Regions from separate parts of the Homo sapiens genome. Here all the other regions are reported to be linked to region 5. Evidence: microRNA targets listed by miRTarBase, many of them from high-throughput screens and not tested one by one. Region 5 holds a microRNA gene; each other region holds the end of a gene's coding sequence. Distances are between the middles of the regions.
Evidence for each region. Region 5 holds the annotated microRNA hsa-miR-1262 (AUGGGUGAAUUUGUAGAAGGAU, at 3,001-3,022, opposite strand). A microRNA usually pairs through its seed, bases 2 to 8, with sites in the 3' UTR of a target mRNA and lowers its output. Matches are read on the target gene's strand: a 7mer-m8 pairs with bases 2 to 8, a 7mer-A1 pairs with bases 2 to 7 and ends in A, and an 8mer does both.

Region 1 (6,568 bases), 130 Mb from region 5:
GCAGAGCATGAACTTGCTACCATTACGAACTATGATTCTATACATTATTTAACTCGTTAACAGAAACTGTAAATGGTTTTAACTCATTAGTTTCCAAAGTGAAATTTATATTTCATTTATTCCTCAGAGAAATACTATGCCTGACAAATCCCAATAATCTTTTCATGTAAAGATAGCATTCCAGCCCACAATACAGCTTCTAACTTCTTCGTATGAATGTTTTTGGGGGATTGAGGACAAAGGGAGAATGGAAATGTCCCTAGTGCTCTTAAAACAAAATAGGGCAACATGTTTTATTTACAATTGAACCTAAAATTTAAGAGCCCACCAAACTGGAATCAGAATGAACAGAACAGGCCAGGCATGGTGGCTCACGCCTGTAATCCCAACATTTTGGGAAGCCGAGGCAGGTGGATCACCTGAGGTCAGGAGTTCAAGACCAGCCTGGCTAACATGGTGAAACTCTGTCTCCACTAAAAAATACAAATATAGCCAGGTGTGGTGGTGCACACCCATAATCCCAGCTACTCGGGAGGCTGAGGCAGGAGAACTGCATGAACCCAGGAGGTGGAGGCTGCAGTGAGCCAAGATCGCAGCACTGCACTCCAGCCTGGGTGACAGAGTGAGACTCCATCTCAAAAACAAACAAAGAAAAACAAACAGAATGAAAAATAAAACAAAGAAAACAAAACAAAGAAAAACAAAAAGAATGAGTAGAATATTTTATGAGTTCACATGGCACCCAAACTTAAACTCTAATTAAGAACCACTTTGAGAAACAGCACCAACTGGTGGTTAAAAAATCACTTACAGCACTTACTCTATGTACATGAACTGCATTACTTATGAAGCATTATAATCAAACTCAGGTTAAATAGCTTTTAGTAAATTTAAAGTGGACAGAAATGGAATTCAATGGCAAACAAAATCCTCAGACAGATCATTTGCTTAAATTCGACATAGCATGAACCCCACTTTTTGAATTTTGGCAATAAAACTAGTTTTATTTCATTAGCTTTACTCATATAAAAATGCTTCCCACTTTTCAGTAAATGGCACATATTTATAACTTCCAAGATGCCCTTATAAAGATTACCTAAAATAATACACAGAAACCCAAAACACATAAAAAACCTGCAAGTATTATCTATTATATACTAACTAAATATAAATCTTTATACATCTATTATACATTTTCAATTTTTCCTTAGTTATTATTCCAACAGATATAAACAATGCTGGGATCAACATACTTGCAAATGTGCCAACAAATATGCCAGAATATATAGGACATGGCATTTCAAAATTCCCACTCCAATTCTTAACTTAAGTCAACTTTAGTCATTTCTCCACTTTTTATTTCTATCATTAGAATAGCTGGGTGAATCTCAAACACAAGTGAATAAATAGTAGAAATTCAGTCAAGTAATATTAAGGCTAATGTAATTAAATTTTCATGTTGTACTTTTTTAAAGAAACAGAGCAGCTGCCAACTTTTCAGCTGAGAACAAATTTCTATAGTTCTTATTTTATAAATTATTTCTCAGCATTCTATATGGACTTTAACCAGACAAACCAATAATTTCTTTATTAAGAATCTTTTTTTAAAAAGTATGTGTATATGAAGGGCTTTAATAAACTTCCAAAAAAATTAAAAATAAAAAATTTAAAAAGACTTATCTTACTCATAATTTTGCATTTAAACAAGCAATTTCAAAACACAAAGTTTACAGCTACTTTCTAAGCCATTAATTTGACTAGCTTTTATAAATAATTGTTGTATTTGTAATATTATAAAATATACTGCTAGTCTCAAAAAATTTTATATACTTTAGTTCAACAAATATTCCTCCCCACCCCTCCAAAAAAGAACAATGTAATCACTTTAATTTTTGTTAGCAGTCAGAAAAATTTTTATTTAGGAAAAATATTCCCTCAATATTTATTAGATAATGAATCTTATTTAAATGAATAGTTTACTTTTACTTTTCTGTGTAGACCAATTTAAAAGTATGCCACTTTCCTTTCATAAGCAAACTGTATTTGTCTCATTCTACATGGCAGATCAAAAATTAATACTTCTTTCTGCCTTAAAAATTATGAGATTTTCCTCATTATGAATTAGTTGTTTTTATATGGATTACTGTTGTGCTGCTAAAAACAAATGTTAGTAAAAGTTATGGAGACATGGGAAAAAAACAAACTATAATACTAGTTAATAATGAAATACATTAAACATTGTTTAAATATTAAACAGTAAAATACTCCTATATTAAATAAATAATTAAAAATTGCATTTGTCAATGGGAATATAGGCCAATACCACCAATAAAAGGGATGGTCTAGTGCAAAGGGTGGCCACAAAACAACAACAACAACAAAAAATCAAAAACCACACATACATACAGAAAAGAAGGAAGAGGAAACACATTTAATACTGGTACTGTTTTCAATAACAAATTAAACCAGTGATTCTGAATCCTTCCTGCACATTCAAATTACCTGGAGAACTTTAAAAAAAATACTGATGACCAGGTCTTGTCTCAAATTACATGAAAATGGGAATCAAGATTCAGGCATGGATATTTTTAAAAACTCTCCAAATGATTCTAAAATGCAGTCAGGGTTGAGAGCAACTGATTGAAACCTACATATTTCTTACTGTTCCTTGACTGAGAAGAATGTCCTATAAATATAGAAATAGAACTTTTTCCTTTACAGGTTGGGCATACAAGGGTATCTCCAGTTAGCAGTAACTTATGGAGGGGTAAGTCAAGTTATTAATTTATACTTCATTTCCATTAAAATATCTACTTATACCTCTCTTCATTCCCTGTAATTCTGTACTCTCAAACTCCAAGACCAAGAAGAGTCGAACTACACTTTTATAATAAATTTGTTACACTGAAAATACATTATTCATTCATGCATGTAAGTATTTACTGAATGCCTACTATGTGCAAGGCACTGTGTTAAGTACTGCTATATAGGACCATGTCATGGGAGAATAAATGGGAGTGGCTGAAAATTTTTGTTTTTTAGAATAAACAGCTAAAAAATAATGGAATGAAATTAATTACATGGACCTAAATAAGAGACTAAATTGTCAAAGAGGAAAAGAAAAAGAGGTGCTTATACTAAGGGTCTGATTTTAAGATAGATGGTTATAGCCTATTTGTCCTTTTCCTAATGTTCCTTTACAGTATTTCCATAAGCCTTTGAATATACATAAGGCAAATTCAAAATAGAAAAATAAACCTCATTCAAAGTAGATGTTCCTAATTTTAACCATATTCTGTCTCAAGTAAAGTTCATAAATAAGTACAAATACCAAAAATCTTTATGGGAAGGTAGTTCATACTGACTTGTAGTAGTCTTGACAAGTAATCTTACATAAAAATATTACAGATTCTGGTCCTTGACTATTTCATCATGGAGAAAGTTTACACAACATGTAATTTATTTTGGAAATATATTTATATGCTAAGAAAGCCTAATGTAAACAAATTTGAGTTTTCTTTTATCTTTAAGGAAAGAAGACGCTAAAAAGGGAGGAAAATAGGGGTAGAATCTGTTCAAACCTTGTTAAGTATGCTAAAATCTAGTAATTTAAAATGCTGACTGTTCCCTTCTGAAGAGCCTTGTAAATATCATGTGAATAAATATCTTTTCTAGTTACTAGTGGTATGAACTATGTGATCACTTAAAAAATAATAACTTCTCATTTTTGTGACAGTGTTAAATTTCATTAAGAAGCTAGATAATGTCAGCTTAATACCTATGAAAGGCCTAAACGTTCACCAAAAATATGTTAACCTAGGAGAAAATTGCTGGGAATAAAAACAGAGAAAAAAATGACATAAGACTGTGATCAGCAAAAATTCCAATGGCAAAAACACTTTAGGAAAGTAAAGCTTCCTAGTTGCCTTTAAGGAAAAAAAAAAAACAAAGTGAAATCAAGGTTCAAGGCAAATGGTCACTTGATGTACCTTGGATGCAACATTTTGTCTGAAGTAGAGAAATAGTAAAATATTTCACTAAGTTAAAATATAGTTTTTATATTTTATACCATATTGAATACAGACATAAAAATACCAGTGTTTTTCTCTTGTTTCTTTTCAGACAATTAAGCAAATGTTTTCTTTGGTGCCTGGGAGTTTATCAATATTTAGGGATAATGGAAGATAAGAACTCCAAGACTGACAAGCCTAAAATAGAAGATTCAAAATCCTATACCATAAAAATTACAATCAAAAGTGGACTAAAGAGAAAAGGAGCTTAAAGTTATACTGCAATAGGGCTGATACATATTCTTCCCCCAAATCATACTCTGGCTCCCAAAATAAAAAATACTACAGCCTATTGTGGTTTTAATCTGTGTTTTGAGATTTTTTTCAAATGGAAAGATATTACAGATAGAAACACATCATTCTAGGTTTCAAAATCACCAAAGTCAGTGAGAAGAATGTACATTCATTTAAATGTAATCATTTGTAAATAAAGAAATCTTGAAAAGGCTGAACAGTTCAATCAAATTGAAGAATTGATCTAGATTTTTCATTATTCTTTTTAAATAATGAGTAAGTGTAGATATAGTGTACATACAAGTTGACATTCTGATTCATTCAAAATAGTCACATCCCTTTGCTTGGTTTTGGATGTTCCAGAGACTAAAATTTAATACCATTCATAACATAGTATTTTCAGTAAAAAGAATTATAGAGCAATGAAAAATCAGAAGATGGCTCAGAGAGCCTTATAATCTCTAAATATACACACATTTATAACCTGCATTTATTTTCTAAAGAAACAAATTTTAAGTAATGCTAATTTAACCAATGGAGAAAAAACTTCTATCAAAATATACAATTTCCATTACAGACTAGAAGGCTAATATTAAAAAAATAGTTGTAAGCCAAAAAGTTTGCTTATATGGATGACAGGTATCATCTCCTTGAAGCACAAAGCATCAAATAAGGTCTTATAAAAGATCAATCTGTGACCTTCTTCATTTTTAAGTTCTTGATAAATTCATAAAGCTTGAGTCTCAATTTCCAGAAATGGAGGAGCCAAATAATTCAGAATCTCAAGTGCGATTTATGCTTTACCATGTACCTGAAAAAAATATTATGGTAGGTTATAATGACTATAGGAATTTTAGAATTTTTAGAATAATGCATGTAAAAACAAGTTGACATTTCTTAAAACTTAAAATCAACAGAATAAAATGCTGTTTTCTAGAAAACTGGAAATATAAAGACTCTGGAATAAGCTAGAAATAACACTCCTCTTATTAAGTAATATAATCTAAGAGCTTCTAGCTAAAATAATATATGTTTCACAGATATGAGAGACTTGCACCAAAAATGTTACAGATTTTAAGGAGCATACCTCAAAGAGAACCGATTCAGTGGTATTTACTGTGATTATAGGCTGTTCTTAAATTTGCCGATTACAAAACTGTTATTAATGTAAAGGGCTTTATGAACACTATACTAGTAATTAAAATAAATTTTAAAAAACCATTTCCTTTTGTGAACCATCCGTAACACAAATAAATCCAGAATCATAGATCTTTCAGTACTTGCAAAAAACACAGGGTTCTCTTAATCCAAAGTTCCTTGGATAGAAAATAAGGTTCAAAAAGGTCACACAGATAATTAGAGACAGATTACAAAACCAAGACTAAAGTCTAAGTCTTCTGACTCAGTTTAGTGTTACTTCTATCAGGCTAAATTCTCCAACTAAAGTAATTATACAATAAAAAATTGTTAATTATGTACTGAAGATAAGCATCAAGTTAATGTTGAAAGAAGGGAATTAGGGAATAAGACTGACAACTCTATGGAACTTAAAATTTAACTGAGACAGAAAAATTACAATAAAACACACACAAGCATATTTTAGAATCGGAATTACCTGTCCAATGTTTCCCAAAACCGTAAGAACACTGGTCTATCCAAATGACGTTTGTGATAGCTGAGTTCTAATACTGTTACATCCCATTTCTGAACATTTGGATCCAGACGAACTTCATCATACTTCAGATGGAAGGCTTTAACTATAGAGAGGGTGGAGAGAAGTTATCATTTTTACTCAAAATAAAAAAAAAGAAAAAAATTTCTTTATTCCACCAACTGAAGCCGTATTATAACTAAAGTGATCTTTTAAAATATTATCTTTAAAAACATTCAGGGTTTATACACGCCAGCCACTGGACACTAAAATGAGGAATAAGGTAAGATAAAATGCATATAGTCTAGTGAAGGACAGTAAGAAAGACTATAAGGTTGGTACGTTATCACAGAAACATAAGAGTGCAACCATACCTTGGAGATATTGTGGGTTCAGTTCCAGACCACCGCAATAAAGTATCATAATAAAATGAGTTACGCATATTTCCTGGTACCTCATTGCATTTTTATAAAAGTTACGTAGTTACGTTAACACTGTATCACAGTCTATATTACGTGTGCAATAGCATTATGTCTAAAAAACAGTGTACATCCCCTAATTAAAATGTACTTTCTTGCTAAAAAATGCTAACAATCATCTGAGCCTTTAGCAA
Region 2 (6,568 bases), 90 Mb from region 5:
GCTGGCTCTAGGGTTAATTGTAGGGATGAGGTTACCCCATTTTTTTGATAATCCCATGGGACATCCCAACTTTCAGTCCTGGATGCTTAGAGAATGTCATATCTCCTTGTAAGGCGACATGATTACCATTTTTCATTTTAGCCATTCTGATAGATGTGTAATGATATCTCATTGTTATTTTAATTTATATTTTTCTAATGGCTAATGTTGAATAACTTTTCATGTGCTTATTATCTATTTTCTGTATTTAAATCCTCTTTGGAGAGTGTTCACGTTTTGTCCATTTTTAAATTGGATTGTTTATTTTTACTGTTGCATTTGATAGCTCTTGATAATGTCTAGATACAAGTCATTTGTTGGATATTGGATACAAATGTTTTATCTAAACCTTTAAATTGCTTTTTCATTCTATTAACAGGATCTCTTACAGAGTAAGATTTTTAATTTTGAAGAGATCCAATTCAGTGACTTTTTCTTTTATAAATGTTTTCTATTCTTTATTTTAGTGTCAACTCTAAGACCTCTTTACCTAACCTTATGCCATCCCAAAGATTTTTTTCACATGTTTTTCTCTAAATTTACTAAATTTTTACATGTTACACTTAAGCATGTGATCCATTTTGAATTAATTTTTATATAGGATGTGAGACTTAAGTTAAGGTTCATTTCCTTTGCTTATGGATGTCCAATCTCTTGAGTACTATTTATTGAAAAGATTACCCTTCCTCCTTTCGATTGCTTTATAGACTGTCAAAAATCATTTGAGCATATTTGTGTAGGTCTGTTTTGGAGTTCTGTGTTCTGTTCCACTGACCTATGTGTCTATCCTTCCACCAGTAACATCCTGTCATTATTACTGTAGCTATATAATAATCCTTAACATCAGGAAGAATAATTTCTCCCACTTTAGTAATTTCTCTCAAAACTCATTTTACTAGCTATTATTTTTAACAATGGCTAACGAGGAAATATCAGCTATAATATAATCATACATCTTAAACTCTAAAAATAAAATTAGCATGATAGCTGCCAAGAATGGACAGACCAAAATAAGGGAACAGAATTACAGTTCAGAATAGACAGTGAAGATGAGAAAAAAGTGATATTTATATAAATTTAACAAATTATGACCATGAACACTGGCTCATGTCTATAATCTCAGCACTTTGGGAGGCCAAGGCTGGAGGATCACTTGAGGCCAGGAGTTCAAGACTGGACTGGGCAACATTGTGAGACCCTCATCTCTACAAAAATATCTTTAAAATTATCTGAGCAAGGTGGCATGTGCCTGTAGTTTCAGCTATTTGTAAGGCTGTGGCAGGAGGACCACTTGAGCCCAGGACGTCAAAACAGTAAGCTATGATCATGCCACTGCACTCCAGTGTGGGTGACAGAGCAAAACCCTGCCTCAAAATAAATAAATAAATAAAAAAGCAGTAAAGAAAGTATCATAAAGAAGAGAGATATTTGTTTCAAGATTATTATCATCCTCATTATTATTTTTATTTTCATGCTGAATTTCTTTTCATATTACCATTAAAATGACCAAAGAAACAAAAATTAGGAGAAATGTGTGTAAGCACAATGACACATATACAACAGAAATTTTGATAAGATTTCATGTAGATAGAAGCAAATAAATGGAAATACCTTTGAGTGTCCCTGGGAAAGAACTTCATAGGAATTAAGCACCCTAAACATCCACCACCTAATTTCTCATCTCTGAGCATCCGGGACTGAAAGTTGGGATGTCCCATGGGGTTATCACAAAATGGGGTAACCTCATCCCTACAATTAACCCTGGAGCCAGCAGCTATCAGAATACTGAAGGCATGGCCATGGTGCCTACCTACAGCCATCACTGGACAGGACCAATGGCCAGTTAAAGGAGATCACTGTTTAAGTGTGCTTCTAAGGAGGACAGTCAAGCAGGTTGGGGTATTCTTATTTTTCTCAATGTTTCATGTGTATTTGGGTTCAACAAGGTGTTTTTAAGTGATAAAGACACATTAATGATCCTTAGACAAGTCTTAAAAAAATTGTGTAAAACTTCTATTTTTTAAAAATAAAAAGTCATTTTATTCCAATCTGTCTATTCACGTGAAGGTTTCTCAGTGCTGACATCTGTAAAAAAGAAAATTAAAATAAAATCGAGGGTTGAGATTTTTGCAGACTTACATTCTATATCCCTAACACTTGGTTCTTGTAGATTTTCAATAAATGTCTGGTGAATCAGTTGACTAAATTTATTTGTGGATACATGTTTCAATTCGAAAATGTTAAAAAGTACTCCAATGAGTCATTAAGAGGTGGATTTTAATACAATTTACCTTTTTATGTTTAATAATTTTTGAAAAAATGTGTAATTTATTCCCATAGTTTTGATCAGTTTTGTACCTATAATAATTCTAAAGATAATTCAAAGCAGAAGAAATGTTTTAACACAGAGCCTTATGATCACAGAAATTTTTTTAAATTAAAGTGATCAGTAAAACATTTTCAGAAATAAAGATGAATTACATTGCACCTAAAATTTTGAATGAAAAAATGCCAATGAAAATGTGCATTCACAGCCATAAAATTTTTAAAAAAAAATCACATGCACGCAGCGAAGGGAACAATAGGGGGCAAGGTGGGGATGGTTAATAGGTACAACAAAATAAAAAGAATGAATAAGACCTACTTATTAATAGCACAATTATAATTGGTAATAACTTAATTTTATATTTTACAATAACTTAATGTAACTGGATTGTTTTAAATGCAAAGGATAAATGCTTGGGAGGATGGATACCCCATTCTTCATGGCATGATTATTACACATTGCATGCCTGTATCAAAACATCTCATGTACCCCATAAATGTATATACTTACTAAGTATCTCATGTACCCCATAAATATATACACTTACTACATACCCACAAAAATTTAAAATTTTTCTTTGAAAAAGAAGACAACAATAGACGCTGGGGTCTACTTGAGGGTGGAGGGTGAGGAGAGAGTGAGGATTGAAAAATTACCTATTGAGGGCGCATTGGCTCATGCCTGTAATCCCAGCACTTTGGGAGGCCGAGGTGGGTAGATCACGAGGTCAGGAGATCGAGACCATCCTGGCTAACACGGTGAAAACCCGTCTCTACTAAAGATACAAAAAATTAGCCGGGGGTGGTGGTGGATGCCTGTAGTCCCAGCCACTTGGGAGGCTGAGGCAGGAGAATGGGGTGAACCCAGAAGGCGAGCTTGCAGTGAGCCAAGATCATGCCACTGCGCTCCAGCCTGGGTGACAGAGCAAGACTCCGTCAAAAAAAAAGAAAAAAAAAAAGAAAGAAAGAGAAAAATTACCTATTGAGTACAATGCTGATTACCTTGGTAACAATCTATACCAATCTGTAATCTGTACACCAAACCCCTGTGACATGCAATTTACCCATATAACACACCCACACATGTACCCCCTGAACCTAAAATACAAGTTGGAAGAAAGAAAAAAAGGAAAATGTGCATTCACAGAAAAAAGAAAATATGATAGTATCAAATCTATAGATTATTTACATTTTATTCTATATACTTACAAAAGTAATATCATAGTTTATTGCAAATACTCATATTTACTATGTCAAAAATCACATTTTTGCAACTATATGCATACTTTGGTGATATTGCAGGTTCAGTTCCAGACTACCAAAATAAAACAAATGCTGCAATAAAGCAAGTCACACAGATTTTTTGGTTTCCCAGTGCATATAAGTTATGTTTACACTCAAGTCGATGCACATAAAGAAGAAAATCTGGAGGAAACGGCTAAATTCCTGGAAACACACAATCTCCCAAGATTGAACCAGGAAGAGACAGAAACCCCTCCTAGACCAATATCAAGCGCTGAAGTTGAATTAGTAATAAAAAACTTACCAACCAACACAAAAGCCCTAGACCAGATGGATTCATAGCTGAATTCTACAAGATGCAGAAAGAATAACTGGTACCAATCCTGCTGAAACTATGCCAAAAAATCAAGGAGGAAGGGCTCCTGCCTAACTCATTCTATGAAGCCAGCATCAGCCTGATACAAACATTCTGGCAGAGACACAGTGGAAAAGAAAATTTCAGGCCAATATTCCCAATGAACATATTTGCAAAAATTCTCAACAAAATATTAGCAAACTGTATCCAGCAGCACATAAATAAGTTAATACACCACTATCAAGTCCTGTTCTCATCACTTCACAGTAGATGAAGGTGAGACCTTGTATCTCTTATTCATTCTTCCCTCAAATCTTTACACACTGATTGCTTAAGAGAAGGTAGCAGAAATAATTTATTTGCACAGTGTCTGGATGTAGCAGCAGTTCAATGAATATTGATAGGTAAAAGAAGATATTGGAGAAGAAACATCATCAGGACAAAAATGACAGGAGGTGCCTCCTGAGGCACGTTCTGGCTGTGGCAGGTGATAAGCCTCAAGCATTTTCATAAGGTTTTATAGCAAGTCTTAATGATGCCCCATCCTTGCTGTTGATCTTCCCTTCTGATTCCTCCAAGTGTTATGATTTCTTCACAGAAGAGTAGATGACTTGGGAGTCCTGGGAGAGACACACAGGAATAAAGACTGAGGTGATCAAGAAAATAAATAGGGAGAAGGAAGGAAAGATGAAGAAATTCCAAGGTGTCTAGCTCACCTTGTTCTCCAGAAGTGTCCTGATGTTTGCTGTTAAGGAAAAAGTAATAGTTCTGAGCTCTTGCATTCTTAATTAGGCCTCACTCCCAGACTTTATGCCCCAGGGCATAGAACTACTATGCTTAGTATGTGGAATCCCATTTTCTCCTGTTCTGTAAAATCCTTTCTTAAAGTTGTTAATACTGAAGTCCTTCTAAGACTCTATCCATCTTCCAAGCCCTCCACCAGCACTTACTAACAAAGCGCTTCCTTTCTCTAATGCAACTTCCCATAGGTCATTGTCTTTATAATTTTTTCCTCTTGACTTCTCTGTTGCAGCATTCTGTCAGGGCTGTTTCCTGTTCTTTCTCTATGTTCCTGAGATAACCAATCATGTGTGGTTCACCTCACTACATAGAAGGAAATTGGAATAGAAGCATAGATAACAGAAGACAGACTCTGAATCACATAGTATTTTGAGTCTGGTTGCAGGAGCTGCTTAGTGATGTCTGCTTCTTTTCCCCTTTTTCCAGGTAGGCATAGTGGGATGACATCCCTTTCCTTCCCTTGAAGATTTACAGCTAGAGGGCTTGGAAAGTGACTGCACTTTTTGATTCTGCTAGGCTGGTCAGATAGAGAAAGAGAATGATAGGGTAATCAACTCCCTATAGGAAGTTGAAGTGGCAAATCTAAGCAAGGCAGACAGAGGACCCACCTTCAGAGGCTCAGAGGAGAGTAGCTAGATGACCACTGACCAGGAAATCAGCCAAGCTGTCAACAGCCACTGGCTCCATCAGAGGCAACCAGGAGTACAGAACAAAGGACAGCTTTTAGGGTTGTTGATATAAGCATTGTAGTTTTAAGGGCACTGGAGCAGAAGCTTAAAGGACACTCCTCTGCACTGCTGCAGAACTCAGCAGTTCCTGCAAAGCTACGTGTCAAAGTGAAAATTCTCTAGGTCATGTTGATTTATTCAGTTATTCCTCCCATCCCATATGAAGACTACAGATCCTTCAAAAGAGACACTTTAATGACCCTGTTCACCTGAGAGAATTCCTCTTGGACTTTAGACATGCTCACTCTTGCCTGATTTCCTTCTTTTGCCTTGAATCTTAGATTCTCCCTGACTATCTAACCCGATTCAAATGAAGACTCATTAGACCATCACCCTATTTTTTTTTTTAAGTTTGCTCTCTTCACAAGAGCCTACCTCCAGGTGTCTCTTGCTCCCTCCTGGATCAACAGATTTCCTATCAAGGGCAAGTGATGTATTAAAGCCTCTATTGCTGGCTGGGTGCAGTGGCTCACACCTGTAATCCCAGCACTTTGGGAGGCTGAGGCGGGTGGATCACTTGAGGTCAAGAGTTTGAATCCAGCCATGGTGAAACCCTGTCTCTACTAAAAATACAAAAATTAGCTGGGCGTGGTGGCGCATGCCTCTCATCCCAGCTACTCAGGAGTCTGAGAGAGGAAAATCAAGCAATTTTCCTGTATCAGCTCACAGGCAGAGATTGCAGTGAGCTGACATTGCACCACTGCACTCCAGCCTGGGCAACAGAGCAAGGCTCCTCAAAAGTAGATAGATAGATAGACAAATAAATAAATAAATAAATAAATAAATAAATAAATAAAGCCTCTATTGCAAACAATGCATCACTTTCCTGTGAATATGCATCTGACAAGAACTACTTTGCAGTTTCTCACCTGAGCTTTCTGGCTGCTGCATGCTCCAGACCTGAGAATAAACCACATCCACATCTACAGAGCCCACTGCAGGGAGAAGACAAGAGTTCACAGATGTTGGTGGCCCAGGGTTCACACTTCATACACAGCTTCCCAGGCCCTGGCTTAATGATTATATCCTTCCTCTCAACCCCAACATGATTCTGAGAGAGTCTGTTATTTATTGGGAA
Region 3 (6,568 bases), not on the chromosome of region 5:
TGTGGTGGGCACCTGTAATCCCAGCTACTAGGGAGGCTGAGGCAGGAGAATTGCTTGAACTCGGGAGGTGGAGGTTGCAGTGAGCCGAGATCACACCACTGCACTCCAGCCTGGGTGACAGAGTGATGAGGCTCAAGTCATGTTTTTCTAGGCACAGATTCTGGGACCAGCCAGCCTGCCCGCCCAGGTTTGTACCTTAGCTCTGCCTCTTACCAGCAGTGTGAACTTGGCTCAGTTGTTTAACTTAACCTCTCTGTATTTCAGTTTGCTCATCTATAAAACGGGGATGATAGTATTTTGTAAAGGTTAAATAAATTAATATATAGGTAAATCTTTTAATACAGTACAAGGCATATTGTAAGGGCTAAGTGTTCACTGTTATCATTGCTACCATACACTCTGTGTAGACAAACCATAGTTCTCGTAAGCAAGCTAGCAAAGCTTGAGCCCTGGAGAGGGCTCAGGACCCAGGCCTATTCCTGCCTCCTAAGGAGGCTCTAGGTTCTCAGGGCACCTTGGTTCCCCTCTGCAGATGACTGTTATCCCTTCTTCCTCCTTTCCTCACTATATATTCCAGGCCTCCAATACTCAACAAATGTTTGGTAGCAGCCCAGTGGTTTTCAGGATGGAGAAACTCATATTCAGAGGGGCTTGGGGACTAAGAGGAAACCCACGCTCTTCAGTGATTTCAGTCGGAGCCCAGTCCCGGAGCCCTGCCTCCCCTCTCTATTGTACCCCTTCCTCCATGCTGCCGCCAGCATCCTGGGTGACCTCCAAGAGCTGCCTCCTGGAGTAAACAGCAGAGGCCGGGTGGGAGTGCAGGGATGGGGCATCTGAAGCCCCAGTTGTGATGACCAAGGTGCCACCAGCCTGCTGAGGTGGAGTGAGAGGGAAAACACGGACTCTACTCCCTCACCCCACGTAGCTTCTGCTCCAAATAATTAAGCTCCAGTTTCCTCCCTGATGAGTTTTGGTGCTGACACCAAAAGGAAACACCAGGAGCCCGGTACGACTCTGCCATGCCCAGAGCTCAAGCTTCGGAGGCATTACTGAGAGGGGGAGAGAGCGTTCCTTGGGCGTGAGTGAGGCCCAGGGCAAGGAACCCCTCCTCTGCTCTGCCCTTCTGGTTCTCCTCAGCTAATTTGTTCAAGTTTGGAGAATGCCAGTAGTCACCTGTATCACCAGTGGGCCTTCTCAGATGCAAGACTTAAAGCCAGTAACTTTTAGACCAGTCTCCTGGTTTCTGTGAGCACCAGATCCTTGTGTGGAGCCTAGATGATAAACTACGTAACAGAGGACCTTTGAGGGCTCAAATGCGGTAAACAGCTCATTCTGCACTAGTGCTCTGTCCAGATGGTGCCTCATCACCTTGGACTGCAGCGGTTGGTTTATGTAAAGGTCTCCTCCTCACTCCTTGTTTCTCACAGGCAACTACCATGCTTCATTCACCTGGCACATGACAAGCATTCACGTAGTTAAGTGCAACTGACCGTCAGGTCAGGTCTGGTCTACAGATGGGTTTTATTTTGCTTGCAGAGTATGTAAATTTTTTATTTGTTGCGATCACATCTCGTACAAAAATCTGGATTCCCCAGATTCTCTGGACAATTTTGAAGTTGGGGCATTAGGGTCCATCTTCCTGCATGGTGACAATCAGCACCTAGGACAGGCTGCCCCGTTTAGATGGATGCTGTCCACTGTGCCTGTCCCCATCACTCCCTCCTCTCACATGGGAATTGCCTCAGCTTCCTTCATTGATTTGACCTCCCTGGTCTCTATAGACAGCGGAGTTAGCAGCTCCTGTTGGTGACTTAGGCAGGAATGGAAGAGGTCTCCATCGGCCCCACCAAAACCAGTTGTCAATACATGCCTGTGGCAAAGGCAGCATCTGAGGCTTGCCAGGCAAACAGCAGCTAGAAGACGCCTCTGGAGAGACCCTTGGTCAGCAGGTATTCTAAACAACCCAGCTATTTCATGGTAGTCAATAGCACGGATGTGTGGTTGATTTGGCTGCACTCAATCCTTTTTCTAGTCCAGTCTCTGGTGAAAAATAGGCGAGGGTATGCCATTTGTGCAAGAAGGGGGAAAGGTAGGCACTTGGCTTCACTGAACCACCATCAGGCATCAAGGAAAAGGCTTCTTGGCCTTCCCATCCAAGCAAGCATTCTAATCATGGTCACCAGGAAAGTGGCCAAGACACCCAACAATATAAAGAAAGGGTGGTGGGGGTGACAGCAGGTCATTCCAGGCTGAGGCCAGGGCATGCAGAAGCATGGAGGTGCAGGCTACTGGGGTCTATGAAGGGCCTAAGGATGGGGCAGGAGGAACAGCTGGAGCGATGGCATATGCCATGTTAAGAGAGTAAGCTGTGTGAGAAACCAGGGAGTGAGGATGCAGGGGAACAAGTCATGGCTTGAGGCTTCTGCTTGGAGAAAGAAAGACAATTCACTTTAATAGTAATTCCCAAGATGGAGAGGCACCATCACTCACCCTCATTTTTTATTTTTATTTTTTTTTTGAGATGGAGTCTCGCTCTGTTGCCCAGGTTGGAGTGCAGTGGTGTGATCTCAGCTCACTGCAACTTCCGCCTCCTGGGTTCAAGCGATTCTCCTGCCTCAGCCTCCTGAATAGCTGGGATTACAGGCGCCCGCCACCATGCCCAGCTAATTTTTCTATTTTTAGTAGAGACAAGGTTTCACCATGTTGGCCAGGCTGGTCTGGAACTCCTGACCTCAAGTGATCCACTCACCTTGGCCTCCCAAAGTGCTGGGATTACAGGCGGGAGCCACTGTGCCCGGCCTAGGATTTTTTAAATACGATTTTTTCCCCAGAACGTCAGTATAAGAAAACACGTTATATATGAAATGTATGAAATGGAGCAGGTCTGGTGATGGGGCTCGCAGGGGGCTCTGGGCAATCTTCAGTGTCTTCTTTACGGAGGTCCCCAGCGTCGGAGTGGCACAGGTCGGAGACCGCTGATCTCGAGTAGGACTGCATTTTAAACGCAGAACGAGCTGCCCCAAGATAGAGTTCCTTTTGCCTAAGAAGCCAAGAGCTCCTATAGAGATGAACAATTCCACTTCCTGTTGCCACATTTTTAACTATTTATTGAATGAGGCAGTCAAAGACAGAATGGGAAACAACACAGAATCCATGCTCTGCTACTGGGGTTTTGCTTTTTTCTTCGTCTTGGCAACTTCTCAAACTATTTGGAGGTTATTTCACCACAAAGGAACATGGACTTTAAAGTCCCTGGACAACTTCACAATGACGATAAAAAATAATAATTAAAAAAATAACAAATTGTAGAACTAGGACTATTTATATGTAAATTTCCCTCCCCTCCCCCCATTACGTACAGAAAAGAACATATAAAGAACATTAGATAGTTTTATATAAAACAAGCAAATACAAGAATCTGAAACTTCTCTCAAAGGTTGAGCAAGACGTGGAGAATCTTTTAATGTCGCATTAAAAAAACACATTAAATACACCATCACACACATGGGGAGAGCTGGGAGGAGGGAGGAGGAGCTGTCCCTGTACTCAAGGTTCAGAGATTTGGCCTGTTGAAAAGTCAGGTGAATTCAGCTACTGGAGACTCAGGGCTTGCAGCTGAGAAAGACAGAGTTAACGGTTACCAAGAACACCCAGATAGTCAACACCTCTGAGGAGGCAAGCTGCTCCCGGCCTGGGCCACGAGGTTGCATCAAGGAACATGGGCCTCCAGGAGTCCCTTCTGAAGCAGGGCCTGATCCAGGAACACAGCAAACACCCTCAGCTGTTTTCTATGGCCAGGTGTCCCTTCTTCCCTTCCGCGTACTGACCGGGCCCAACCAAGCTTAGCTTCCAAGATCACACAAGATCAGGGGCGTTCAGGGTGCTGTGGCCACAGACCAGATGTCTCTTCTTGTTCATTCCAGCGCCTCCTCTGTGAAGCTACAGACAGTAGAGAAAATTGCTCCCACGGGTGTATCCTGGTCTAGGACGATTTTTCTTTCCTTCCTTTCCCTTCCACTGCCCCCGCCCCCTTCCCATCCTCTCCCCCACCATGCACGCACACACACAAGCACACTTACACGCACGCACTCCTCAAACCCCTAATACTTCGGTTACCTTCAGTTCATATATACGAGCAATTCAGGACTGACCTTAAAACCAGAGCAACATTTTAATAGTCATGAGATCAAGGATTCCTGGGAAGGAGAGGAGATGGGAGGCTGAGGCCCGGGAGCTTTCAAGACATTCATCTGCCTGTGGCAAGGTCAGCACCTGGGCCAGCCCGAGGAGCATCTCAGCTGGCAGACCACGCAGTCCCTGGACCTTGCAAGCACATCTCTGACCCACCCCATGCTGGAGCCTCTTTCCTCAGGTGAGTCCAGCAGGGAGAGTTCTGTGTGGCCACTGGGAGGCAGCTTTGGTGAAGGGCATGGTCACCTCCGCCTGAGTTTGTCAGTAGCTCAACGCATGACCCTGGTATGAACAAAAACTGGGTGACTGTGTCTGGCCACGTACCCTACCACCCACTAAACTGGGTGAATTATTGTTTCCACAGCGCACCTTGATTTCATACAGATAATTCCATGCGGGTTTCATACATATATATATATATATATGTATATATATACTTTATATATATGTAAATGTGTATGTCCATATGTACACATATACATATATTCACACTCACACATACACACACATAAGTATACACACACATTTCCGCAGAAAGAAGTCCTGCCACAATTTGGCTTTTTTGGGACAGTGAAATTGACAATGCAGTTTCTTCACCAATCCCAGAAAATCAAGAGTGGTGCTTTAAAAAATGCAATTCCAAAATCCGCTTTCTTCCTTTTAAAAAAAAAAAGGTTAACAAAACTTTCCTTCCAAAGTCGAGAGACTTAATTCCATTTGATTGCACCTCTGCAAACGTGTAAAAAATTTTGAAGTAGACTAGAAAACGATGCCATAATATGGCTGTATGTCACTGTTCCAATGTCACCACCTCCACAGCTTGGCCGTCCATGGTGACTGCGCTGTCTGATATCCTGGTGGTCACAGGGGCCATGGCCACCTGCACTGGTCCGTTGCCCTGGGCGAGGCTGGTCACCACAGTCTGGTACATGCTCACAGGGATCTGGACCAGGCCTGGAGAGACAAAGAGAAGACCGTTGGTGGGGCTCAGGCTCAAGTTCCCAGATGCTGGCTGGACGGGGGCACCCAAGTCTTGCCTTTGAGGTATCGTGGTCACCAGCCTCAGGTGATCACATACCCATGGCCCAGGCACAAAGACATCTCTTTCCCACCCCATTAAAATTTTTTTCATTAATTTTTAAGATTTATAATTGATATATAGTAACTGTTCATGTTTATGGGGTACAATGTGATGTTTCAATGCATGTATACACTGTAGAATGATCAAATCAAGAAAATTACCATATTAATCTCTTTAAAGATTTATCATTCATTGTGGTGACAACATTCAAAATCTAGCTATCTTGAAACACAGACTACATTGTTATTCGCTACAGTCACCCTACTGTGTAACTGAACACCAGAACTTATTCTTCCTTTGCACCTGCTGGCCAACCTCTCCTGCCCCCCTCCCCAACCCTTCCCCAGACTCTGGTAACTATTATTCTACTCTCTACTTCTAGGAAATCAACTTTTTTCCATTTTAACTTTTTTTTTTTTTTTTTTTAAGAGACAGGGTCTGGCTCTGTAGCCTAGGCTGGAGTGCAGTGGCGTGACCACAGCTCACTGCAACCTCGAACTCCTGGATTCAAGTGATCCTCTCACCTCGGTCTCCTGAGTAGCTGGAACCACAGGCGTGTGCCACCATGCCTGGCTAATATAATTTTTTTTTTTTTTGAGATGGAGTCTTGCTGTGTTGCCCAGGCTGGTCTTGAACTCGTGGCCTCAAGTGATCCTCCCACCTTGGCCTCCTGAATAGCTGGGATTACAGGCGTGAACCACCAACCCTGACCATTTTGATTTTTTTAAAACAGACTATCAGAAAAGAAAAGTTTAGAGAAATTGTGGAAACATGCCTTAGGGTAGGGCCTTCCCAGCTTGCCGTGAGAGGGCCCTGCCTGCCTCCGCATCTAGGAAGCACAGGCCCGTCAGGTGTGAATGTCCCCGGCCTGTCTTCTCCCTCTCAGAACAGGCCACCATTATTTTTCTTTGATATTTGGCTACACTGCCTTCTTCAACCCTCTTTCTGCCTATGCTTAAGTCTCTCTCAGCTTGAAAAGAAAAATCTTGTCCCTCTCCTATCCTGTCTTCTGGCCACTGCTCCGTCTATGTGCCTTCCTTCATAGTCAAGCTTATTTTATTTATTTATTTATTTTTAAAGCCTAGGTCACTTGTTTCCTGATTTCTAGATTTCACACACCAGTAAAATGTAAAAACACATTTTGGGGTCAACTTAAAAAAAAAAGACCCCAGCTACTCCCTAATATCACTATTATTTCAGAGTAGAAAGGATGGCTTAAAGGAAGAAGCACATAACCTCCATAAAGGTAGTCCTGCCTAAAAAGGGAAAGCTGATAATACATTAAAAAAAAGGATT
Region 4 (6,568 bases), not on the chromosome of region 5:
GCAAAGGAAGCAATGAACAAAAACAAATCATGAAACGCTCCTAAATATAAGAAAGATGGCTCCACCTCAACCATTAAAAAAGTACATGTAAGGCCAGGTGTGGTGGCTCACGCCTGTGATCCCAGCACTTTGGGAGGCCAAGGCGGGCAGATCACGAGGTCAGGAGATCGAGACCATCCTGGCTAATACGGTGAAACCCCGCCTCTACTAAAAATACAAAAATTAGCCAGGCGTGGTGGCAGGCGCCTGTAGTCCCAGCTACTCGGGAGGCTGAGGCAGGAGAATGGCGTGAACCCAGGAGGTGGAGCTTGCAGTGAGCCAAGATTGCGCCACTGCACTTCAGCCTGGGTGAGAGACTCCGTCTCTAAAAAAAAAAAATTAATTAATTAAATTAAATTAAAAAGTACATATAAAATTATAATTTTCCACTCGTTAGATTGGCAATAATCAAAAAACAAGGTAAGGGGCCGGGTGCGGTGGCTCACGCCTGTAATCCCCGCACCTTGGGAGGCCGAGGTGGGTGGATCACGAGGTCAGGAGATCGAGACCATCCTGGCTAACATGGTGAAACCCCATCTCTACTAAAAATACAAAAAAAAAAACAAAAATTAGCCGGGCCTGGTGGCAGATGCCTGTAGTCCCAGCTACTCAGGAGGCTGAGGCAGGAGAATGGTGTGAACCCGGGAGGCAGAGCTTGCAGTGAACCAAGATCACGCTACTGCACTCCAGCCTGGGCAACAGAGCAAGACTCCATCTCAAAAAAAAAAAAAAAGCAGGATAATATACCTTGTGGCTGAGGATGTGAGGAAATGCACTCCCATACATCCCTGATGAACGTGTTAATTGATACAATCTCCTTGGAAGGTGGCATTGTCTGTAGTAGCTAGAATGAAAACAAAACCTCAATCTCTATCAGCTGGTTATATACATTAAGGAATATCCATACAATGGAATGTAAGGCAAAAAGAATGAAGTGATCTAAACTTACTGTTGAGGAGCAATAGCCAAGAAAGACATGAAAAAACAAAGGACCTAGAAAAGCATTAACAAAACACATGTGTGGCTAAATAGAGAGGAGTGGCATACAAAGGTAAATGTGGCTTTCTTTTTTCAAATGCCTGAGGGTAACCACTTTGTGTGTTCCTTTCTAACAGCTTTAAGATATAATTTATATACCATAAAGTTCACTCATTTAAAGTGTATGAGCAGCAGGCATGGTGGCTCACGCCTGTAATCCCAGCAATTTGGGAGGCCAAGGTGGGCAGATCACAAGGTCAGGAGTTCAAGACCAGCCTCAACAATATGGTGAAACCCCATCTCTACTAAAAAGAAATACAAAAATTAGTAGGGCATGGTGGCATGTGCCTGTAATCCCAGCTATTCAGGAGGCTGAGGCAGTAGAATCGCTTGAATCTGGAAGGCAGAGGTTGCAATGAGCCAATATCGTGCCATTGCACTCCAGCCTAGGCAACAGAGGGAGACTCTGTCTCAAAACAAAAAAGAAGAAAGAAAACAGGTGTATGACCAGCTGGCCTGGTGGCTCACTCCTGTAATTTCAGCAAGACTGTAATCTAGTTTGTCTTGATAGATTTGCCTATTCTGAAAAAATTAAAAATGGAATCATACAATATGTGACTTGCTTTTTCTTACCATGATCTCAAGGTTCATCCATGTTGTAACGTGTCAGTATGTTTGAAATGCTTGTTCCCCAGTGCCATAAAGAAATAGCACTTGAACATAAATAATTTTCTCAGCAAGGCCATTTTTACACTTTCTGCAGAAAGGGTACACTCGCCAGCAGTTTTGCCACGAGTACACCCAACAAAGGAGACAGGGTCATTTATAACCTGACGTATCCACCCTACCTCTGGGTCCAGTTTCCATTGGCTGAAACGGGACTTCACATTCTGTATTTGTCTTGATTGGCTAACAACTTAGAATTTTTTCAGAGGCAAAAGCAGAGGAGAACAAAGGAAGGAGGAAGTAACTTGTGGAATGCTGAGAAAGGTAAAAACACTTTCAAATAAGGAAGAGGAACAGGCTATGACTTAATGCTTGCTTGCACCAGTATAACCGTGCCAGGGCAAATATTTAGGCTAAATTGTGGGAGTTAAGAACATAAAGTACATTGATTTATTATGGCTAGCAGGTATTTAAGAATGTTAGGTCTTTGAATAAATTTTGCTTCTAAGAGAAGTTACTATTTATTCCTAATTAGATGGGGAGGAAAGTCTTTGAAGAGGAACCTCTACTTTACTTTTCACAAGTACTTAATTCTTTTCTATGGCTGAATATTCCATTGCATGAATAGACCGCATTTCATGTATCCACTTATCAGTTGATGGATATTTAGGTTGTTCCTATTTTTTGGCTGTTATAAACATTGGTGTGCAGGCTTTTGTGTGGACATGTTTTCATTTCTCTTGGGTAGATACCTAGGGGTAGAATTGCTAGGTCATATGGAAATTCTTACCTTTTGAGGAAGTGCCAAACTGTTTTCCAAAGTGCTCACCATTTTCAATTCCCACCAACAGTGTGTGTGGGCTCCAATTTCTCCACATCATGGCCAACACTTGTTTTTGTCTTTTTGATTATAGCTATCCTAGTGAATGTGAAGTGGCATCTCATAGAGGTCTTGATTTGCATTTCCCTGATGACTAAGTTGAGCATCACCTCTGTTTTCCATCACCTCTGGAAGGATACTCCAACCTAGTGACAGTGGTTGCCTTTGGGAACAAGAAACTGGAGACTAAGATCCCATTGAGAAAAAGCCTGCCTTCTCACCATGGAACCTTTGTACTGTTTAGATTTTTAAATCCTCTATTAACCTAAAAAAAAATAATTCAGGGCTTCCCTACGGGGGATCCATGAAAAGACATCATGGTGCCCATGAAGGTCTGGAATTCATGGACTCAGAACGCATATGTATGTATGTCTGTATGTAGCAAAGGTCTAGAGCTTTCATCCAAGTCCCAAGGGGATTTACTGACTTCTCCAAAAATATATGAAATCCTAGTCTAGAAATGTAAGTATGTCTGGATAACCACAAACCTATTGGTGTCAGCCCTCTATTGCGCAAACAGCCCTGGAAACACTCTGCTTATAATTGTAAAGTGTTCGCAACAGGCCAGGTCCCATTTGGGGCACAAAATGCACATTCACCTTGAATCCTCACAGACACCAGAGCTGAAGACAGGGCTGTCTGTATAGATCACTGTCCACCTGGACTGGGACCCAGCTCAGCTACATCACACATCAAGCCAAAGCTGTCCTTACTGGGGAGCTGCCAAATGTTTCACCAGGCAGGACCCATCCAACAACAACCCTACAAGATGCGTACGTTTTCTTTTTCCCATTGTACAGATGAGGAAACAGAGCCTCAGAGTAACTCCCTAACTGGGCCCAAGATCATGCAGCTATTAACAGTCAACAGTAAGAGCCAGGATCCTAGCTCTTTGCTACCCCATCTCAAGGATACAGAGTGCCTTCTCTAAACAAATTCTTCCAGACACAAAACTAATTACAAGTTGTCTGTCGACTTTACAAATATATTTTTATTATATAAAAAGAAATTACTATAGATTACTTTAAATAGGATATTTCTCCCAGTGAATTTAAAATAGCATCTGTTTCACAGAAAGATTTGCAACATGACTTTTCAGATATATACGCACTGAATAATCATTAGGTACATGGCAGAAATACACATTTAATACCTTTTTATTTTACAAAACAGGACAAGTGCATTTTCCAAGTGCTTCTATAGCCACTGTCTCATCTGTTCCTCCCAACAGCCCAGGGATGAAGAACAAGCAGGTGTTATTTTACTTACAAAGAAACTGAGGTCCCAAAAATTAAATGATTGACTTAATTAGCAGCAGAATCAGACATGAAATGCATTCTCCTGATTCTTCATAATCCAGTCATAAATAACAACACATATTCTCGGCCGGGTGCGGTGGCTCAAGCCTGTAATCCCAACACTTTGATAGGCCAAGGCGGGCAGATCACGAGGTCAGTAGTTCGAGACCAGCCTGGCCAATATGGTGAAACCCTGTCTCTACTAAAAACACAAAAATTAGCCAGGCATAGTGGCAGGTGCCTACAGTCCCATCTACTCAGGAGGCTGAGGCAGGAGAATCACTTGAACCTGAGAGGCAGAGCTTGCAGTGAGCTGAGATCGTGCCACTGCACTCCAGCCTGGGTGACAAAGTGAGACTCTGTCTCAAAAAACAAACAAACAGACAAACACATATTCTCAGAATAAAAGCTCCATTAAAAAACACTAACATTAGTGGGATGGGAAGATAAAGGTACCAGGCAGTGACTGAATAATTATGTGAATTGCAAGATTTCCAATACAGGCAGTGGAAAGCCTGCAGAGCTCTTCGCTAGGTGTCTGGCATTTGTAGAACCTGAGGCCCAGAGAGGTGAGTCAAGAACTGCACTGAGACACAAGTTGAAAGTCTTCCAGGCCAGGCACAGTGGCTCCCAACTGTAATTCCAGCACTTTGGGAGTCTGAGGTGGGAGGATTGCGCCAACAAAGCGAGACCCCATCTCTACAAAAAAATTAAAAACTAAAAAAAATCTTTCAGAGCATGCAAGCTTGCAGGCTGTCAGCAAATACAACCCAGAGATCTTAGCTCTGGAAAATGCTATGGCATTGCAGAACTGCCAGTGGCGGGGGAACAAGAGCTGCTGAGGTAATGGAATCTGCTGGGGGTGATTATCATCACATACTCCCCGGAACCACAAAATCAGCCACATCCTGGGCCCGTGTGCAGGGTTTCTGCTTCAGTCTCCTCTGATCCCCTGCTCTGACTAACAAAGCCCAGAAAGGAAGAGACTTCATGGATTTTTGTGTCTCTAAAAGCTGAGGGCCTTTCTCTCCCAACTCATTCCAGTGAAATGAAGTTTCCCTCCCACCCAGGACAGCAGATGTTTTGTTGTGTGTTTCCTGGCAGATCTTGGATTCTGCCTCAGACCTTTTTCTTGATCTGATGCTCATCTTTCCAACTGAGGACAAGGGTCCTCAGCTGTGTTCCGGTCATCAGGGGCCAAAGAGCTCAATGCTGTCCACTTTTTCCTCTTTGTAGAGCAGAATATTCTCCATCAGTTTCCTTTTGGCCTCATTGATCTCAATTTGCCACGAAGTTTCTGTAACTGATGTTCAACAGAAAGCAAACAAGAGCGACTTGAATGAAAGTTACTATTATTATAATTCTTAAAGTCACTTAAATCAGGTTTCTGAATCAGGCCCTGAGTGTAATGAGCATTTCTTTTTTTTTTTTTCTTTTTTTTTTATCGAGACAGGGTCTCACTTTGTTGCCCAGGCTGGAGTGCAGTGGCACAATTTCAGCTCAAGGCAACCTTGACCTCACAGGTTCAGGTGATCCTCCCACCTCAGTCTCCGGAGTAGCAGGGACTACAGGCGTGCACAACCACACCTGGCTTTTTTTTTTTTTTTTTTTTTTTTTGAGATGGAGTCTCACTCTGTTGCTCAGGCTGGACGACACACACAGTTAATTTTTTTGTGTTTTAGTAGAGAAGGGGTTTCACCGTGTTGCCCAGACTAGGCTTGAACTCCTGAGCTCAGGCAACCCACCCGCCTCGGCCTCCCGAAGTCCTAGGATTACAGACAGGCGTGAGCCACCACGCCCGGCCTGTGAGCCACAGCACCCAGCCCATTTATTTATTTATTTATTTATTTATCATTTGTTGAGATGGAGTCTCACTCTGTTGCCCAGGCTGGAGTGCAGTGGCTCAATCTCGGCTCACTGCAACCTCTGCCTCCTGGGTTCAAGCAATTCTCCTGACTTAGCCTCCTGAGTAGCTGGGATTATAGGCGCCCACCACCACGCCCAACTAATTTTTTGTATTTTTAGTAGAGACGGGGTTTCACCATCTTAGCCAGGATGGTCTCGATCTCCTGACCTCGTGATCCGCCCGCCTCAGCCTCCCAAAGTGTTAGGATTACAGGCGTGAGTCACCATGCCTGGCTGGCCACACCTGGCTAATTTTTGCATCTTTCGTAGAGACAGGTTTTCACCATGTTGCCCAGGCTGATCTTTATACTCCTGGGCTCAAGCAATCAGCCCACCTCGTCCTCCCGAAGTACTAGGATTACAGGTATGAGCCACTGCACCCAGCTGTAATGAGCATTTTCATCTCCTCTGTCTTTGCAGGAAGCCCTGCAACCTACCCTGGCCTTCCAGAAAGGAGAGGGTTTCCCTGTTCCTATTTATGATGTTGAGGGGTGGGAGGGTGGAGTGAAAAAAATGCTCACATCCTGTCTTTCTTCTTCCTCTCCCCTCCCCATGGCAGGAGGAGTAAAAGAGAAACAGGAGTGGTCAGAGCCTGGGACATTCATTGAACCATGTTTACTAAGGGACAGGGACACTGCATTGAAAGGGCCTTCCTGGTCGGGTGCGGTGGCTCATACCTATAATCCTAGCACTTTGGGAGGCCGAGGTGGGCGGATCACCTGAGGTTGGGAGTTCAAGACCAGCCTGACCAACATGGAGAAACCCTGTCTCTACTAAAAATACAAAATTAGCCAGGCATGGT
Region 5 (4,000 bases):
CCATCACAGCTGTAGATCATGTGCCTGCTCTTTTGACCTCCACATTTTCACCACCTGTTTCTTTGTTGGATTACCAATAAATAGCATGGGCTCCCAGAGCTCAGGGCCTTCACAGCCTCTGTACACTAGTGATGGCCCCCTGGTGTCCCAACTTTCTCTCTCAAACTGTCTTTTTCTCAATCCTTTGACTCTGCTGGACTTTGTCACCCCCACAACCTGGTGTTGGGTCTGATCACCCCAACACAAGAGAGATAGATTCACTATGCAATTATTTTAGCAAACAACCTGGACCAGAACAAAGCCAGAACCTCTTCTTCCTATAAAGAATTACTACTATCTCTCTACTAACACCATTACTAATGACTCACTAAAGCAAAAGAGGATCTGGAACTGTTTCTAGCATCAGTGTGTAGACAATAGGTAGGGTTGGGGAAAATGGTTTTTTCCAATGTAGAGTCCCTAGCACTTTTGCAAGCAGAATTCTGCCTTGCTCTCATTTAACTTCCTTTTGCTTAGAAAAATATAATCCAGAAAATAATCTTAACTTCATTTTTTTAAGTTAACCAAGATAAAGTTGTGAATTCCCCATAAAAGAACCTCATAATAGCTATGTTATGACCAGCTGGCATTTAAATACTGAAAGACCCAAAGTTAGAAGAGGAGGTGAAAACAAAAAAATACCTTCTATACATTGGGGGCACCATTAAGGGATGTGCTGCTTCTGGCTTCTCTGCTCTTCACATTAGTCAATGATGTCACCAGGTTTTTATTTTAGTAATCAGGATATACTTGTATGGATGCAAAGAGAATATCCTCATTTATATTCTAAACTCAGAGCAGGAAATGAGACACGTGGGTGATCTGCAGCTGTGGCACTATAAACAGGGCCAGCCTACCACCTAGTCTAGATTCTAGACTGCACTTCATTCCCTGAAATACTGATTGGGAGATTTTAAAAAATTGAAAATATATCATTTTAGAAAGACCAGTGCATCTTCTGTGCAAGGATCTTAGAGTCCGCTGTTTGGTAGAAGGCTGACTCACCTGTATGGGGTGGTGCACGTGTTGTTAGGTACCATCTACCTATCTACACCACTGATGTACAACGAGGAGATCCTGCCCTGGCTCCAGCCAGCTGTGCCACCGTGGGCGAGTACCACAGAGTTCAAGCTTTCTCCAGCTGCTAAATTAAAGGATTAGTGCTTTAACTTGGGTCAACCACCCATTTGCAAACCTGACAAGAACCACAAACACTCTTACTTCAAAAATGCATATAAGCAAATACCACTGAAATTTTATGTAGAGTATCAAGGGGTTCTCTTAGCCCTTACACTCCAGTCTAAACTGCTTGGTTGATGATTGTTAGACCAGCAGCCCTCTAGTATTCCTTTCAGCACTCCAAGCTAAAATAAAACAGCTGATGTTTAGTAACAATTTCTGCAAATTATTCAACACCATAGAAGAGTGTTTTGTTAAGACTAGAGACTAATCTAACACAATCTACTCAACAATGTTAAATTGACCAGTAACCAATAGATGACTAGAAGAAAGTGTATGTAACTAGATATACCAAACTATAGATACTAATTTTAAAATCTTGGAAAGGTTTTGGAGGAGCCCTACTGTTTCTGAATTGGAATTTTTCATTTGCAAATACTTAACAAAACCCACCAAGCCAGATAGAGCTCTATAGCGATGCCTATGGAGGAGCCTTATAATGATGTTGTCCAAGTAATGTGCTTAACAATAATCACACTCAAAGCCAAAGGTTCCCATGCTCCTGCCAATATAACATGCTCACAACGGTCAATTCCAAAGGAAGAGCTGTCAAGAAGTGCCTGAAGATTTCCTCAAAGGGAGAGATAATTCATGAGCAAACAAACATCATGTCCCTAATCTTCTCTATCCTGGGGTAAACAAAATATAGTTTTCTCCCATGATTTCAGTTGCTTTCTATACCAAGTCAGTAAGTAAAACTGATTCATACTGGTAACTTCCAGGTTCCAGCCTTGGTTTGAAGGGGCACACAATTCAATAAGAGTAAAGAAGACTGGCCATGTAAGCCCATCTTGAATACTGACAACTTCCGTACCATTTACCTAACACTACAAACCCTACTCCATTTAAGTCTCTGAGATCTTTTTGATGTATTTTGAGCTTTTCAACTTGCCTTTTTTGGTGGGAGAGGAGGGAGGAGGAGAACAAAGGGAGAATTTGAAGTTTTTATTTCTGCTTGCATTGACTCAAATTGTGGTAAAGAAACTTAAAAGGTAACTTTAAAATTCTAGTGACACTAGCCAACAATGAAAACTATCTAATTAGAATGTTAGAGGTTTTTTTTGTTTGAGACAGAGTTGCTCTGTTGCCCAGGCTGGAGTGCAGTGGTGCGATCTCGGCTTGCTGCAACCTCCACCTCCCAGGTTCAAGTGATTCTCCTGCCTCAGCCTCCCAAGTAGCTGGGATTACAGGCACACGCCACCATGCTGGGCTAATTTTTGTATAGACAGGGTTTCACCATATTGGTCAGGCTGGTCTTGAACTCCTGACCTCAGGTGATCCACCCACCTCAGCCTCCCAATGTGCTGGGATTACAGGTGTGAACCACTGTGCCCAGCCAAAATGTTAGATAGTTTTAACACAGGCTATAACATAGTCATAAATTAAAGAAGACATGGTCGTAAATGAAAGAAGACCTCTTTTTGGTGGGAGTAGTAGTAGGGGTGGGAGAGTAGAGTTATACATTTCTTCTTAGCAGTTGCTTCAACATATTTTATTAATAAGGACTATCTGCTGAAGCACAGAAATACAATTATGTGAATATCATACTACCAATGGCCTGTTCCATCATAGCAGGGATAGTTCTTATAGTGTATAAAATCCTCTGCCCCATTCAGCTCTCTTTATGGAGCTTTCCTCAGAAGCATCAGAAAACACAGAATTAAATATCACAATTCTTGTTGAAGGCCAAAAATTAGTTCCCAGAAGGATTCTTTGACTTTCATCCTTCTACAAATTCACCCATCACCATTGTAGATAATGTGAGGGGTGAATTTGTAGAAGGATGAAATTCAGAGAATTGTTTATGATCAATAGATTGTTCCCTTTATTCCAGTTGTCTTCCCTTGATGTCCACTTAACATTCCATAATAAATGGACAAATGGAAAAGCACAATTACTCTGCCAAAAGTCAGTCAACATTCTCCCAGGACACTCAGCCATCTAACTTGAAAACTGACTGGTAATAATATCATTCTAATTACTTTAACTAGAAATTTGTTATACAGAAATGCTTTCAGTGTGGGGAAAGAAAAATCACTTGCCACTTATAGAAAGAATTCTGCTTCATGTGACCATTTGCAATAATGAAACAAGTAAGACAACACTGGGTTCCAGTGTACAGCACAAGGATCAAGGCGAAACATAATGCTTTCATTACGTAAGAATAGGACTGACATTATTCTGGCTTTCCCCTACCCTTCATCATTTACCAATATTTTTTCAGTCTCAGGAATTTTTCAACCCCTGAAACTCCTAGATTTACTACTCAAGACACAGCTATCCATCTTGAGGCTTTCTGCCAATGGCTCTAGTGCTTCTATTTCAACAGCTTATAGATTTGAAAGCTGGAAAGAGAGATATGTAAACAAATTCTCTAACTTTGATCTATGCACCCAGGTTTCTCAAAAGAAGCCCTTGGAGAGTCTGGGGTATACTAAGTGTATGACTTGCAGTTGTAATCATTAGAGTGACAACCCATTTCCAGTGGGTACCGTTTTAGCCAACCCAAACCTTTCTTTTCCTAATGCATAGAGTGACTTTTTAAAAAATGGTATATTTGGGAAAGTATTTTAGAATGGCATGTTAACAAAACAAAAACACTCTAGAATATATTTTCAAATAACAGAACTTGGCCTTACCAAGAGGTCTAATACCATCAGGTAAATAATCATTTTTATCAGTGATTCATAATACATCCAGACTCTAAATGTTAAGGCTGACT

Region 1: the mRNA of CDC73 is a reported target of hsa-miR-1262. Seed matches in the 3' UTR shown: 7mer-m8 at 1,379-1,385.
Region 2: miRTarBase lists FCRL2 as a target of hsa-miR-1262. The part of its 3' UTR that is shown has no 7-base or 8-base seed match.
Region 3: miRTarBase lists NRF1 as a target of hsa-miR-1262. Seed matches in the 3' UTR shown: 7mer-m8 at 4,533-4,539 and 7mer-m8 at 4,491-4,497.
Region 4: the mRNA of IRAK2 is a reported target of hsa-miR-1262. Seed matches in the 3' UTR shown: 7mer-m8 at 4,202-4,208.

What each region holds. Positions count from the first base shown.
Region 1 is chr1:193,249,223-193,255,790 of GRCh38, reverse strand. CDC73 (cell division cycle 73) reads right to left here. Exons shown (of 17, transcript NM_024529.5): 16 at 5,920-6,061; 17 at 976-5,115. The coding sequence ends at 5,079. Among named protein-coding and RNA genes, the nearest start is that of LINC01031, 52 kb to the left of the region's middle.
Region 2 is chr1:157,742,194-157,748,761 of GRCh38, forward strand. FCRL2 (Fc receptor like 2) reads right to left here. Exons shown (of 12, transcript NM_030764.4): 10 at 6,360-6,425; 11 at 4,678-4,706; 12 at 3,540-4,581. The coding sequence ends at 4,543. Among named protein-coding and RNA genes, the nearest start is that of FCRL2, 32 kb to the right of the region's middle.
Region 3 is chr7:129,753,595-129,760,162 of GRCh38, reverse strand. NRF1 (nuclear respiratory factor 1) reads right to left here. Exons shown (of 11, transcript NM_005011.5): 11 at 3,087-5,145. The coding sequence ends at 4,982. It also overlaps the pseudogene RNA5SP244. Among named protein-coding and RNA genes, the nearest start is that of MIR182, 14 kb to the left of the region's middle.
Region 4 is chr3:10,240,712-10,247,279 of GRCh38, reverse strand. IRAK2 (interleukin 1 receptor associated kinase 2) reads right to left here. Exons shown (of 13, transcript NM_001570.4): 13 at 3,535-5,164. The coding sequence ends at 5,052. Among named protein-coding and RNA genes, the nearest start is that of TATDN2, 4.5 kb to the left of the region's middle. RefSeq lists a silencer at 4,655-4,724.
Region 5 is chr1:68,180,576-68,184,575 of GRCh38, forward strand. MIR1262 (microRNA 1262) reads right to left here and starts at 3,035; the gene lies at 2,943-3,035. The region is part of intron 2 of WLS (Wnt ligand secretion mediator); the gene reads right to left. All of the region lies in intron 9 of GNG12-AS1 (GNG12, DIRAS3 and WLS antisense RNA 1), which reads left to right.